Linked DNA regions of Homo sapiens. The protein of the gene in region 1 purifies or fractionates together with the protein of each later gene. This does not show direct contact. Each region holds a gene or a part of one and is shown in the gene's direction. Other genes may lie near its edges.

Region 1 (3,500 bases):
TGATTGTCTTATTAGGAGAAATTTGCTGCATGTATCATTTGTTAAATAACAGATTTGAAATACTTAAAATGGAATTCTTTCTACTCTTTCTTGGGTGATAGAAGGGACCAATGTGTTGTAACTGATATGCTAAATATAGTTGAAAGTGTTTCTGTATAGTTGAAATTATTTCTTTGACATTTTTGTGCTGCTTACCACAGAGGTTTGATGTAACATTTTATGAAGTGCCCAGAAGTCTGTGTCCTTGTACTGGAGAATGGTGGGTTTAGGTTTTAAGTGGCCTCATTATAAGGAAAGGACTAATAAATTTGTTAATTGGCTTAGACATATATAACTTGTCATTGTATAATAAGTAGTATATGTTAGCCAGGTGTGGTGGCTCATGCCTGTAATCCCAGTAGTGCTTTGGGAGACTTACGTGGGAGGCTTGCTTGAACCCAGAAGTTCGAGGTTACAGTGAGCTATGCTTGTGCTACTGCACTCCAACATGGGTGACAGAGCAAGACCCTGTCTCTAAAATATATGCATATATATATAAAACATGCTGATTTTCTTTGAGACACTGATATTTTCTGGGATAAGAATCTGTTTGACTAACAACTCCTAGGGTACCAAGACCATTGATTGATCTGTTATAGATAATGATTGTAAGAAGGCTAAATGGTATAATGTTGATATTGTGAAGAATTAATTAAAATCCTTATTTTTACTTAGCAGATTATTTTAGTCGAGGGGTCAGCAAACGGTGGCCAGTGGGGCAAATCCAGTCACTGCCTGTTTTTGTGAATAAAATTTATTGGAATACAACCATGCCTGTTTTACATATTGTCTCTGGCTGCTTTTATGCCTCAGTGGCAGAGTTGAGTAGTTTGTGACAAAGACCTTTTGACCTGCAAAACTTAAAATATTTTCTGCTTGGTCCTTTCTAGAAGTTTGCTGACCCCGATTCTAGTACAGTCACATTTCCCTGACTTCTTACTTCTGGGTGTTTGTTAATTTTTTTTTTAGCGGTAGCTTTAGTCTATTTATAGCCTGTAAGTATTAGTAAGCCATTTGCTTATTTAGTGGATTTTCCCCCTCTAGGCTTAATTTGAAGTTTTCTGAAAATTGGGCTATTACTTTTTTTCCTCCTTAACAGTTATGGCTGATTGTCCTCACACAATTGGTGTTGAATTTGGTACAAGAATAATCGAAGTTAGTGGCCAAAAAATAAAACTGCAGATTTGGGATACGGCAGGACAGGAGCGATTTAGGGCTGTTACACGGAGCTACTACAGAGGAGCTGCGGGAGCTCTTATGGTCTATGATATCACTAGGTAAGAGATAATTTTTCAACCTTCATATGGGGAAAATAAATCTACTTTGGGCATTTAAAAAAAAATTGATAGGCATTTTTTTTAGTTTGTAATTGTATGACTGTGAATGAACTTACTTGTTTTTTATGGTTTCTTAAGTTGCCATGTAAAACTTGATATAACACATTGATATTTTCCAAAAGTTTTTATGACTGAAGAAAAATTTAGGGAGTTAGTTATTGGGTGAAGCTAATAGAAGAATACAGTTCTGAAAAGCAGCTTCAGTTGAATGATTTGAGGAGAAATAATATTTTATATAAAATGTTCTTTTAAGTAGAAAGCAAGCAACTCACTCTTGGGACTTACTCTATTTAGTCTCTAGTGTTAAAGTTTACACCTCTCAAAAGAAGGCCAAGCAAAGAGTTTTGCTAGTCCAGCATGGTAGATTATAAAAAACTTTATGCTTGCATCTGAAGGTGTTTGAGTATTTATTTACTAATTTTTTTTTCTCTTAAAATGGATAGAAATGACTTCAAATACTACATGCAGTAGGTTTAAATTTATTTCAACATGACTGTTTCTGGAATTCCAAAGCACTTGATGTAAAGTAATAAAACTACTGTACATAAAGGTTTGACTTTGGAGAACATGGAAAACTGTGCCACTTGATTAGACCCTGCACTGTTTGTCTACTGTAAGCTAGAAAATGAACTGGATCACCTTTCATGTTGATGTAAAGTGCCAGTCAAAAGCAATGTGACTCTGTTTCTTGGGGGTAAAGATGGGCGAGTGGGACCAAGTGATAATTAGAGTTTAAAGCATATTTCCTTTCGGAAAATGCCTTAAAAGGTTTCCTCTTGATGTGTCATAATGTGCGTTAGCATATTAAGACTCTGGGAAGTTCTGCAGTAAGAAATTCTTTGCTGTATGACTTTATTTAATTTGGTGTTTCCTAAGCTTATTTTATTGAGGAACACACTTTGGGAAATGCTGCCTTAGAATAAAGATATTGACTAATTATAATTATAGTGCCTAAAGTTTTCAGTAAATTCTAGAATTGGGTGGCCTCAAAGGGAAACAAGCCTTAATGCCCTTCATTATAGCCAGGCAATCTGTGATATGATCAAGAGTATTATGGGAAGACTGTTAATAAACCTGGCCGCCTACGCAGAACTGTCTGATTTTATAAGGAATGCATTTCTGAAGACTTCACATAATTAAAAACTCAATAAAATTTAAGTATGGTGATGTGTGCTAAGAATATTGTTTTTGCTTTTAAGCATATCTTTTAAGCATAGTTAATACTTTTGGTAAAATCTGTGTCTATTCAAGTCATCAAAAAAAGTACTTCAGCTGGGAACAACCAGAACATGCATCAACTGATGAATGGATAAACACTGTGATATATCCATACAATGAAATGTTACTCAGCTATAAGGAAGAAGGAAATACTGATACAGGCCACAACATAGATGAAACTTGAAAACATTATGCTAAGTGGAAGAAACCAGACACTAAGAGACACATACTGTATGATTTCATTTATGAAATATCGAGAATTTATATTCTGGTAAATTTATAGAGAAAGAAAGTGGATTGCCAGAGGATGGGAGTGAGTGACTTCTAAGTGAGTTCAGAGTTTCTCTCTGGGGTGATGAAAATGTTCTAGAATTAGATAGTGGTGATCAGTGCACAGGTTTGTAACTATCCTTAAAACAACTAAATTACGTACTTTAAAAGAATAAGCTTTATGATATGTTCATTATATTGTAATAAAAACTGTTACTGGAAAAGAGTACCCGAGGCTTTAGTCAGGCGCTAAAGTGATACTTTATAGTGACTTTGGTGTTGCAGTCATGACAGCAATTTTTTTCTGTTATTCTTTGACATTTTACAAACGTAAAAGTCCCTTTTTATTTTTGTCATTAACTCTCATTGTTACAGGGTGCTTTTCTAAATTGACAGCGTAGCTTGTCGTGACAGTTGTTTTGCCATAACATTTTGACATATCTAGTATTTTAGCACTTTTTTTTTAGTACTAGTACCACCAATTAATATTTGAATAATATTTATTTATAGATTTAAAATTATAATTATAGTGAATATTAAATTAATAACAATTACCAGAATCATTGGCAGAAGTTATAGTACATGTAAGTAATATGGTTTATATGATTTTGGTACTAGGCTTTTCTGTGTACTTCA
Region 2 (3,244 bases), on another chromosome or scaffold:
AGATGCACTGGCACTGACGGCCAGGATGGCGGAAATGGCCATCCCCTCTGAGGACCTTGTAGGCGGTGAGGGACCCATGCTGGGCCAGAAGGAAGACAAACATGGTAATTGCAGCTGTTCTTGGGGTAGGGCGGGGAGCCCAGAAGGTCTGATCTGGCCTCTGCTTTTTGGCCCAAGACTCCATCAGGGAAATCTATCTAGGGCTCTCCCCTTGTCCTTTCAAAGGGATACTGCCCCTTCCTCGTCTTGCAGAGGAAACCCTGGCTAGGAACTGAGCTAGTTTATGGAGTCTGGAATTCCTGGAGAGCTTGGGTTCACCTTCTCACCCCTGTAATCCAGGCTGCTCCTGCTGGAAAAGTAGAAACAGAATCCAAAAAAGGTCTGGACTCACCCGGTGGTTCCCAGCCAGGGTTTCTGCTGCAAGGTGAGGAAACATCCATGGCTTGTACAGATGTGAGTCTTTGATGAAGCCCCCAGGCAGGCACCAAGGTGATGGGACTCAGGGCCTTGGCTTTTAGATACATCCCAGTCCCTGACTGACATCTGACCATGAGGGCTGGATGGGTGGGAACAAGGAGGAGTAGATGGCAAAAGTACCTGAGCCCACTTCCCAGCCACAGGGTGACCCTGGCACTGTAAAAACCCTTTGTCAGTCATGCCAGAAGGTTCTAGAACTGCCCACCTCTTCCATTTCAGTCCTGCTGAAACCCCTTAGCCTATTTCCGACTCCTCTGTCCATGCTCTGAGTTCAGCTGGGCAGTGTGTGGGCTATCACCCCTTTCATTTAGACCTACCTAGCTGGCCCCCATCTGCAGAGCCTTCCTTAGCACCATTAGGCCTTCTACTTGTGTCCATTTGAAGCAGGAGGGGCTGGATTTGGAAAAGTCTTTGAAGTGAGAGCACCACGCTTGTCTTCGTTAGAAACTCTTAACTGCAGAAAAAAGTTCCAGATGGCAAGGGAGCCCTTAAGTGGAGATTAGGTTGCATTAGACTCCAAAACCAGAAAGGAAAAAGGGTGATGGGAGTGGAGACGTGATTGGATTCAGGCCCAGAACCTGTGACCATGCTCTGAGCTCAGACTTGGGGAGGGAGGGGTGTGGCTCCCACCCCTTCCAGTTAAGACCTGCCTAGCAGAGCCCCAGTCTCCAGCCCCTTCCCTAGCACCAGAGTCTGGTCAAAATGCCACAGAAAATGAGCTGCTCTGCCAGCAAGCTGTGGAGCTGCCTCCTCTCCAGGCCTGGCATCCCTTGGTCAGCCCCTCCTGGGAGGGCACAGCCGTATTACAGTGCCAGTGTGCCTGGCCATCAGCATCTTCACCCTTCCCAGTCTGTGTGGGGAGGCTGTAAACCCCGTGGATTCAGCTCCGTGTGGAGTTTCTGTGCTATGGTGGGACTGCTCATTTTGCCCCATCATCCCTTTGGCCTCCCACACACCTGCCCCTTCCCAGGGATCACGTGTGTCTCCAGCCTTTCACCTTTCTATTGCAATGGTGGCCTTTGTCCAGGCAAGAGCAGGCCTGATGGATGTACTGGTGAGCCCCACAGTTGGATGTCAGCTCAGCCGTCCAACTGGGAGGAACAGTAGGCTCAGTTCCTCCCTGACCCCTGACACCAGGCCGCAGTGGGCATGCACAGGCCCACAGAAAGTCAGTCTGGGTTTTGCTTTTCTCGTGAGCATCACAGTTAAAGAAGCGCTCATTGAGCAACTACAGTGCACTTGGTCTTCTGCAAGTGCTGGGCACCTAGAGATAGGAACAGTCATGGTCCCTGCTCTTAAGGAACTGATGACCTGGTGGGGCCCTGTTGTCTTCAAGGAACCCAGAAGCCACTGGGCCCCAAAGGTGGAACTGAAGGACTGGGGGCAGCTGGCTCTCAGCCTGCCACCTCTGCACTGCCTGCCTTTAAAGAACCCCACCCCACCCCATGATGGCCCCCTCTGTTCCCCTTGTATTTCAGTGACTGTGAATTGAGGTTAGGAAGGCACACCTGCCCTTCTGTGTGCTCTCTCCACACGAAGGATGACAGATACTGTGAATTCAGCCCTCACGGCCAACTGTGAAGGGGATGGAGAAGGCTGGGAGGGCTCGGGGAGAGCTCTTAGGGGCTGCGGAAGTCCCCACGGGGGTCTGAGAGTGGAGCCCAAGCTTTGGCCCTCCAGGCATCCCCAGTTTCCAGCCTCACCTCTGAAGCCCTGCTGCCTTTAACCACCAGAGCCGCAGCCCCCTGGGTTTCTGTCTAACTCGAAGTCTTGAATCCTAGCTAGTTTGGGGTTGTGAGCAGTGTGTAGCAAAGTTGATCTCTCCATGTCACCAAATCAAAACACCCTCTGTCATCCTACGGCATTTCCTCTTGAGGTCACAGAGAGGAATGGCAAGCCCTGGAAACCTGTGTTATTCTGTGTTGATTTGGTGTGGGGGGAGGGTGGAGACGTAAATGTGAAGCCAGTTGGAGTTTGTGCTATGCAGCAGTGTTAGCCAGGATCTCATCAGCGTGCAAACCTAGCATCTTCTGTGGCCACAAGCCACACACTTGCTTTTTTTGAATGTGATGTAAAATTTGTACAGTAAAGTTTTTATATTTTCTATCAACTACATTTGTCTTCCAGACATGCTATTAATTTAAATTAAAATGGTTAGTATTAACAAACATGCTGTATCGGGTTTTTTTGCCACTGGCAAGAACATGCCCTCTGTGCTAAGCCAGGCCTGGGTGTCTGGAGTTTGTGAATAAAGTTATACCAAGGTGTTCTGGGGCTTGTCTTTGCTTTGGTCAGTTCCAGCTGAGTCCTGGGGACCATTTGGATGGGTGGCATGGGAATGGATAGGTCTGGGGTGACTGAACCCCTGGTCTATAGATTAAGGAGCTCCTTCCAAAGGAAGAAGTTATGCCAGGACCTCAGTGGCAGGTGTTTCTAAACAGATGGAGGAATGGAGAAGGCACAGCGTCAATGGCCCACAATGCGCAGAGGAAGATCATCCAGGCCCCAGCAGCAACAAAGCCATGAGCAGGCCCAGCATCTCCTGAGCTGGAGATGCCTTAGCCTTATGGAAGCCTTGGAGGGATGAGGTGGTGTTCATCTGAATCCAATATCTAGGAGCCCCTCATTGCCAGTTATATATACAGATAGGTGGAGAAGAGGTACTTTCTAAACACCATCTCACTTTAATCCTCACAAGGCCATGAGGTAAGAATTGTGATGTTTCAGCTGAGGAAAATGAGAAACGGAGAGGTTAAGGTATTCACCC
Region 3 (3,500 bases), on another chromosome or scaffold:
GTGTTAGATACAAGGGTGACTCTGGTGACCAGGAATAGAAGCCAAGTGCAATGCCCTCAGAATCTGTGGCCCTGCAAACCAGACTGAACCCGTGCTGTTTATCCCACTCCTGACAGTTTATCCCACTCTTGACACTTCCCCTTGAGCTGCCAGATATTGTTGGAGCAGTGCAGCATAAGAAAGGAGAATGAACACTGGACTGGGAATGAGCAAACCTCTTTAATCTTATTCCATCTCTGATTCTGTCTAGTTGTGTGGCTTTTGGCATGTCTCTGACAAGTGACCATTGGTTGCTTATCTGTAAGTGGAAAGGTTAGACAAGGTCATCTCTTCTGTCTTTAAACTTCTGTGATTTGAGCAAGGCAAGAACAACGTGAGATCCTTCATTGGATGAGTGGTACTGCCACTTCCTCCGCATTCATAGAGAGAAAAGGTAGTTAAATAATGTATCTTTATCTTTCCTTTTTGCTCTTCACCCGATATTGGTGAGTAAAGAGCCACAGTCAATGACAGTGACAAGATAAATGAAGTTCCAGGCTCATGCTGATATTTGTGGGTCCAAGTGTAATATACTGTAATATATTGTCTTAACAGGTACCTGTAGGGCAGCTTGAGAATGAAAGAAAAAGCAGCTCTTTTTGCTTTTTTTGGCTTTGACACATAAAAGATGTCAGTATCTAGGTATTTCTAAACCTGTAGAGGGATTTTCTTTAGTCTTTTCCTCCCAGCCAGCACTTGGTGTAGTGGAGGCCACATTTCTCATTAGCTTGTCCTATGGCATATAAAAGTAAACAATAATGAAAAGGTCATTAGTGTAATACATATTTAGGCTCAGTTACTACCAGTTAAAGCGGTGCTTAAAAATTTAAATTTAAGCACCTGTTCACATATTTAAGTAGCATTACTAATTAAAAATTAACTCCTTTTCTAGAACTAAAACTGAGAATTGGTATTTTGGTAACCATTCTGCTAGGAAGCTCTACCACATTACTCAATATTATGGGATCCCTGAAGTGAACTGAAAGGGAGAAAGTTCAGTGGTGATGTTGCAGCTTTCTACCTTCCTTTGTCAAAACTTCCTGTTTCAGTAGGGAAATGGGAAGAGTGAGAGAGTTGTTTCCTTTCTCTTTCCTGTCTTCCTCTCTGAAGACAAAGTCACTGTGAACTCATTAAAAGGAGTCTAGATTGGTTAATTTGGGTTGACTAGCTAGATTCATTTGAAATGAATAGCTATAATATTTTCTTTGGTATTCTTTTTTTTTTTTTTTTTTTTTTGAGACGGAGTCTTGCTTTGTCGCCCAGGCTGGAGTGCAGTGGCACAATCTCGGCTCACTGCAAGCTCTGCCTCCTGGGTTCACGCCATTCTCCTGCCTCAGCCTCCACAGTAGCTAGGACTACAGGCACCCGCCACCACGCCTGGCTAATTTTTTTGTATTTTTTAGTAGAGACGGGGTTTCACCGTATCAGGATGGTCTTGATCTCCTGACCTTGTGATCCACCTGCCTCAGCCTTCCAAAGTGCTGGGATTACAGGCGTGAGTCACCGCACCAGGCCTGGTATTCTTTACTAAAACATAAATCATTAAAATAATTTGATTCATGCTTTGCTTTAAAAAACTGTTCAGTCATCTACTTTAGCTCACCTCCCTGGAAAATGAATTGTGTCAGAACATTCAGATATGCTTTCAACTAAATAATGTTTATGTTATAGATACATAAACAAAATCTTAAAAAATAAATACAAAGCATTCTTTATTTCACTATTCTTTATATGCAAAGCTAGTTTCATGGATTATGGCATGGCATTTTTGTTTGTTGGATGGTTTTTGTGTTTAATCACAGTTTTGGATTAACCTCTATGTTTTATATTAAGAAAGTTGACCTAGGAGTTGGGAGACATAGATTCTATTCTTAGTACTGCCACAAAAAAATTGTATAACCTTGGATAAACTACCAGATCTCTTTAGACTTTAATTTCTTCATGTATAAAGTGAGAGGGGCTTAGATTTGAAAATCTTTATGGTCCCAAATAGTTCTAAATCATAACTTGTGAATTTCTGTCTTTTGAGGAAAAAAATAGATTTTTAAAAAGTACTAAAATGACCATTTTGTAATACCATCTCCTGCATCTGTTTTTCCCTGTGGCACTACGTTTTCTTCTGGTTATGCTCTGAACATAACCCCCTTGACTCTATCCTACCGTTCTGCCTGTGCCCTTGTTATACTAATTTTAGTTATCCTTTTTGTTTTGGATTTTTTTACGTCTCTTTGCAAATACAGAGACCAAAAGTGGAACCGACAACCACGCTGGCCTGTGAATGCTGAGTCTGATTCTTTTATGGCATTTTTGTTGTCCAGGGAGGTCGAATTACCTTCTGAATTAAAATCCTATACGCTTTATGCTCTGCTATTCGGGAGAACAGTGTTATTCTGAAGATAGCATTGAGTTTTATAAGATTTGAGCCTTGAGACTGCCACTTACTATTAGGTTGCCATAGGATTCTTGGGCTAGTCATTTAACCTCTCTAAGCCTCAGCTTCTATTGCTTAATGTATACAACCTGTTTCTTGCCCAGGAGGCTGTGAGGATTGAGTAATGTTATACATCTGAAAGTGTTTTCTAAAATATAAAGATTTATGACCTTATTGTAGTTGGTTCCACCCCAGTACAATATGCATTCTGAAGTCAGTATTTATCGAGTACCTACTCTGAGGAGAATCAGTAAGAAGTTTATAATCAGACTGGGGATTTATATAAAGTTAAGTGTTACGCACCATAAGAAAGCTATAGCCTAAATTTCTGCAAAAGTTTAGAGAGATTATTTCTGGTTGGAGGTACTTAACAATAGGACTATATTTCTTACATTTATTTTGTAGGCCATTATGTATTTAAAAAGCCATTCTTGGACTTAGGCAGGCTTTTCCTTATTGTGCTAGTACCATTTGATTTTTATTCATAAATACACTAGCTTGGTTGTTTTCTATAACTAGCAACTATTTCTACTTTTTTTTTTTTGCGATGACTCCAACTCTTCATGTCATTTGCTAATTTACTTCCATTTTCATCTTCTGGTTCACTGTTGAAGAATACTAAATTTTGATCCAGTTTTGATCCAGGATTTACTTTTTTTTTTTTTTTTTTTTGAGACTGGGTCTTGCTCTGGCTGTCACTGAGGCTGGAGTGCAGTGGCATGATCCTGGCTCACTGCAACCTCTGCCCTTCTGGTTCGAGTGATTCTTCTGCCTCAGAATCCTGAGTATCTGAGATGACAGGCACCTGCCACCATGCCTGGCTAATTTTTTTGTATTTTTTAGGTAGAGACAGGGTTTCGCCATGTTGGCAAGGCTGGTCTCCAACTGCTGGGCTCAAGTGATCCAATCGCCTTGGTCTCCCAAAGTGTTGGGATTACAGGCATGAGCCACTCACTGCACCTGGCCCTTTTAGTATATTTCTTAAAATATCTTTCAAGATTGGCTTTGAAACTATGGTGACTTTCTAGCA
Region 4 (3,500 bases), on another chromosome or scaffold:
AACACCTAACTTAGTATCTAGTTGACTCAAGATGAGAGTTCTCAATGCTATAATTTGAATGTCTTTGAAAATTCCACTAGTATTATACAAGCTTTTTCTTTTTCTATACTCAGAGAGTTACTAATGCAATAAGCTTTGTCAAATGACGTCGTAGTGTAGTCCAAATTCATTGTATAAGGACTTATCACAGTACATGGATTTGTAATCATGTGTCCTCAGAGCATCCTCGGAACTTAGTAAGGTGTGTTTTCCAGTTTTACAGATAAATAAGCCTAAGCTGAGAGAATTAGGTAATTACTTAGGTCAGTAACTTAAATACATTATGAATCACGAGTTATTTTGATATCAAGACCTCTTTCTAGCAATGCTGCCATATTGTACTCATCATGTTCATTTCAGTATGGTTCTCATCTATATTGAACTGTAGATTCTGTGTTAGCATTTATTACCTCTGCTCCAGTATTGATTCTTTTATGTTAGGTTTGGCAGTAAGGGCCTTAGAAATTCCTCACAGTGAATTTTTAAGATCTGGAAGAGACTAGTTTGAAATATTCATTTTAATATGTACCACAGAGGTAATGGATTCTAATTATCTGGTTATTGAAGTTTGTCAAAAGAAAAATTGTACTTCCACTGAAGAAAAAAATAGCTAGTCTTTGCACTCTGAATAACTTTGTTTCATTAGGGTTTTTTGGTCAATTTTTCTTTAAGAGACAGGGTCTTACTCTGTTGCCCACACTCAAGGGATCCTCCTGCCTGAGCCCTCCACAATAGCTGGGACTACAGGTTTGCACCACCATGCCCAGCTAATTTTTTCAAAAACTTTTTGTGGAGATGGGGTCTTGCTGTGTTGCCCAAGCTGGTCTTGAACTCCTGGCCTCAAGCAATCTTCCTGTCTCAGCCTCCCAAAGTGTTGGGATTACAGGCATGTGCCACTGTGCCCAGCCTGTCAGTTTTAAATATGGAAAAATTATAACTTATAAAATTAGTGTATATTTAGATATTTCTTTCCGTACACATTTTGTCAGTGTGACTACTGGTAACAAATGTCAAAACTCTTGTGAGATAATTTCTAGTTCTTTGGTTTGTTTGCTGCTGATTTGGAAAGTGATGTCAGATCTTAATTTATATGTGGCTGTTGCTCATGTTTTGCTTACCTCTGCTGCAAAGGGCAGGGTCCATGTGACTGCCTGGCCACAATCGTTTTCTATGTGTTTAGCCCTTAAGAGTGCTGAGAATGTTTGTTGAGTAACAGCTTCCCTCCAGAGTGGTCAGTTCTCACATCACATGAGGTAGTTAATGAAGCCTCTTACTTTCCAGCTTCTGTAAGAAAAGTAGTCAGATATCATGGTCCAAGGAATGGCCTTATGCATACCTGGAGTCCTTATACCTATCCCATTTTAATTATATTGGCTTTAAAATCTTCAAGGTAAAAAGAGGCAATTTGAACCCCTTCTTTGTTGCCCTGAAAAATTCCAAGGAAAATTTCTTTGTCACAAGCTGAGCTAGGCATAATGAAAGCACTCTGGAAAAAGGAGGTAGAGAGTACTAAGAGATATCCAGCAATTATTGCTAAGTGGTAGGATTGGCATCGGGCACGTTATGTATATTTTTTATCTTTTCCTCTTAATAGCTAAATATGAGATATTCCCCCTATTTTAAAGATGAAGACTTTGAAATGCAGGGTAAGTGGTGATAGTAGGATATGAAGGCAAGATTGGGCTGGGCACAGTGGCTCATGCCTGTAATCCCAGCACTTTGGGAGACTGAGGTGGGTAGGTCACCGAGACCAGCCTGGCCAACAAGATGAAACCCTGTCTGTACTAAAAACAAAAATTAGCCAGGTGTGGTGGTGGGTGCCTGTAATCCCAGCTACTTGGGAGGCTGAGGCAGGAGAATCGCTTGAATCCAGGAGGTGGAGGTTGCAGTGAGCCAAGGTCACGCCCTTGCACTCCAGCCTGGGTGACAGAGTGAAACTCCGTATCAAAAAACAAAACAAAACAAAAATTAGCCAGGTGTGGTGGCACATGCCTATAATCCCAGCTACTTGGGAAGCTGAGACAGGAGAATCGCTTGAACCTGGGAGGTGAAGATAGTGGTAAGCCAAGCTCACGCCACTGCACTGCAGCCTGAGCGACTGAGCGAGACCTTGTCGCAAAAAAAAAAAAAAAAATTGGGAGGCCAAGGCGGGCAGATCACGAGGTCAGGAGATCGAGACCATTCTAGCTAACACGGTGAAACCCCGTCTCTACTAAAAATACAAAAAATTAGCCAGGTGCAGTGGCGGGCGCCTGTAGTCCCAGGTACTCGGGAGGCTGAGGCAGGAGAATGGCCTGAACCCGGGAGGCAGAGCTTGCAGTGAGCCAAGATCGCACCACTGCACTCCAGCCTGGGCGACAGAGCGAGACTCTGTCTCAAAAAAAAAAAAAAAGTCTTTCCTGGAATTCTCCAACACTTGAGCGCTTATCTTCAGTATAATTGCGTTATATTACTTAGTCAATTCAGTGCTTATTGATTTGAGATAACTGTTTGCTACTTGTTTGTAGGAGACGCACATTGATTGGGAAAGGGGGAGTGAGTGAGGTTTCTCTTTCAACTGAAGACCCTACCATAAGGTCAGGTGTATGTTAGATTTTCCTCTGCTGCCTTTTCAGTGCTGTGTTCATATGGTGTTCCTTTTCTTTTTTTCTTTTTCGTTTTGAGACAGAGTATCACTCTGTTGCCCAGGCTGGAGTGCAATGGCGTAATCTCAGCTCACCACAACCTCCGCCTCCGGGGTTCAAGCGATTCTCCTGCCTCAGCCTTCCTTGTAGCTGGGACCACAGGCGCGTGCCATCATGCCTGGCTAATTTTTGTATTTTTAGCGTAGATGGGGTTTCTCCACGTTGGTCTGGCTGGTCTCGAACTCTTGCCCTCGTGATCTGCCCACCTTGGCCTCCCAAACCAAAGTGCCTGGATTACAGGCGTGAGCCACCACGCCTGGCCTGGTGTTCCTTTTCTTTTCATCTTTACTTAACAGCTTTCCCCAAGGACACAGAAAAAAATAATAGAAAGTAATACTGTTTTCTTTTGGGAAAGAGGGTAGTATTGAACATGTATTTTTGAAGCAGTTAGCATGTGGAAGTAAAAGGTACTTGTCAGTGATGGCAGTCACTTAGTAACCTAGTTGTTGTAGTTAGGATTTTTGTTGGTTGTAGTTGATGAAAACCCACTTGAAATTAGCTTAAGCCAAAAGAGATAATTTACTGGACTCCAAAGAAAGGTGCAGGAAGGGCAGGGGTATAATGTAGCTTGGTTTATGACCGTATAGAGCCTGTCAGTCCGACTTAATCAGACTCTCCCTCTCTTTTTTTGCCTTTTCAGGCTTGTCTGCTTCACTCCTCCTTTCTGCAGACCTATATTTCCACCTGGCTAGCCTCTGAATGTCACATTAATTAGACTTTCTTCATATTGTCTGCTCCTAAGTTTGAAAATCTGGAGAAGGGATTCTTTAGGTATCC

The links. The genes of interacting proteins can lie anywhere in the genome.
Region 2: the proteins of RAB14 (region 1) and KSR1 purify together in Homo sapiens (co-immunoprecipitation; one large-scale study listed by IntAct). This does not show direct contact.
Region 3: the proteins of RAB14 (region 1) and VPS13C purify together in Homo sapiens (affinity purification with mass spectrometry; one large-scale study listed by BioGRID and IntAct). This does not show direct contact.
Region 4: the proteins of RAB14 (region 1) and NRBF2 purify together in Homo sapiens (affinity purification with mass spectrometry; one large-scale study listed by BioGRID and IntAct). This does not show direct contact.

What each region holds. Positions count from the first base shown.
Region 1 is NC_000009.12:121,188,370-121,191,869, reverse strand, and holds part of RAB14 (ras-related protein Rab-14), read left to right. Parts: intron 1-1,138; coding exon 1,139-1,316; intron 1,317-3,500.
Region 2 is NC_000017.11:27,623,692-27,626,935, forward strand, and holds the end of KSR1 (kinase suppressor of Ras 1), read left to right. Parts: 3' UTR 1-2,744; downstream 2,745-3,244.
Region 3 is NC_000015.10:62,050,448-62,053,947, reverse strand, and holds part of VPS13C (intermembrane lipid transfer protein VPS13C), read left to right. Parts: intron 1-3,500. UniProt on the Homo sapiens protein: Mediates the transfer of lipids between membranes at organelle contact sites. Necessary for proper mitochondrial function and maintenance of mitochondrial transmembrane potential.
Region 4 is NC_000010.11:63,136,328-63,139,827, forward strand, and holds part of NRBF2 (nuclear receptor-binding factor 2), read left to right. Parts: intron 1-3,500. UniProt on the Homo sapiens protein: May modulate transcriptional activation by target nuclear receptors. Can act as transcriptional activator (in vitro). Involved in starvation-induced autophagy probably by its association with PI3K complex I (PI3KC3-C1).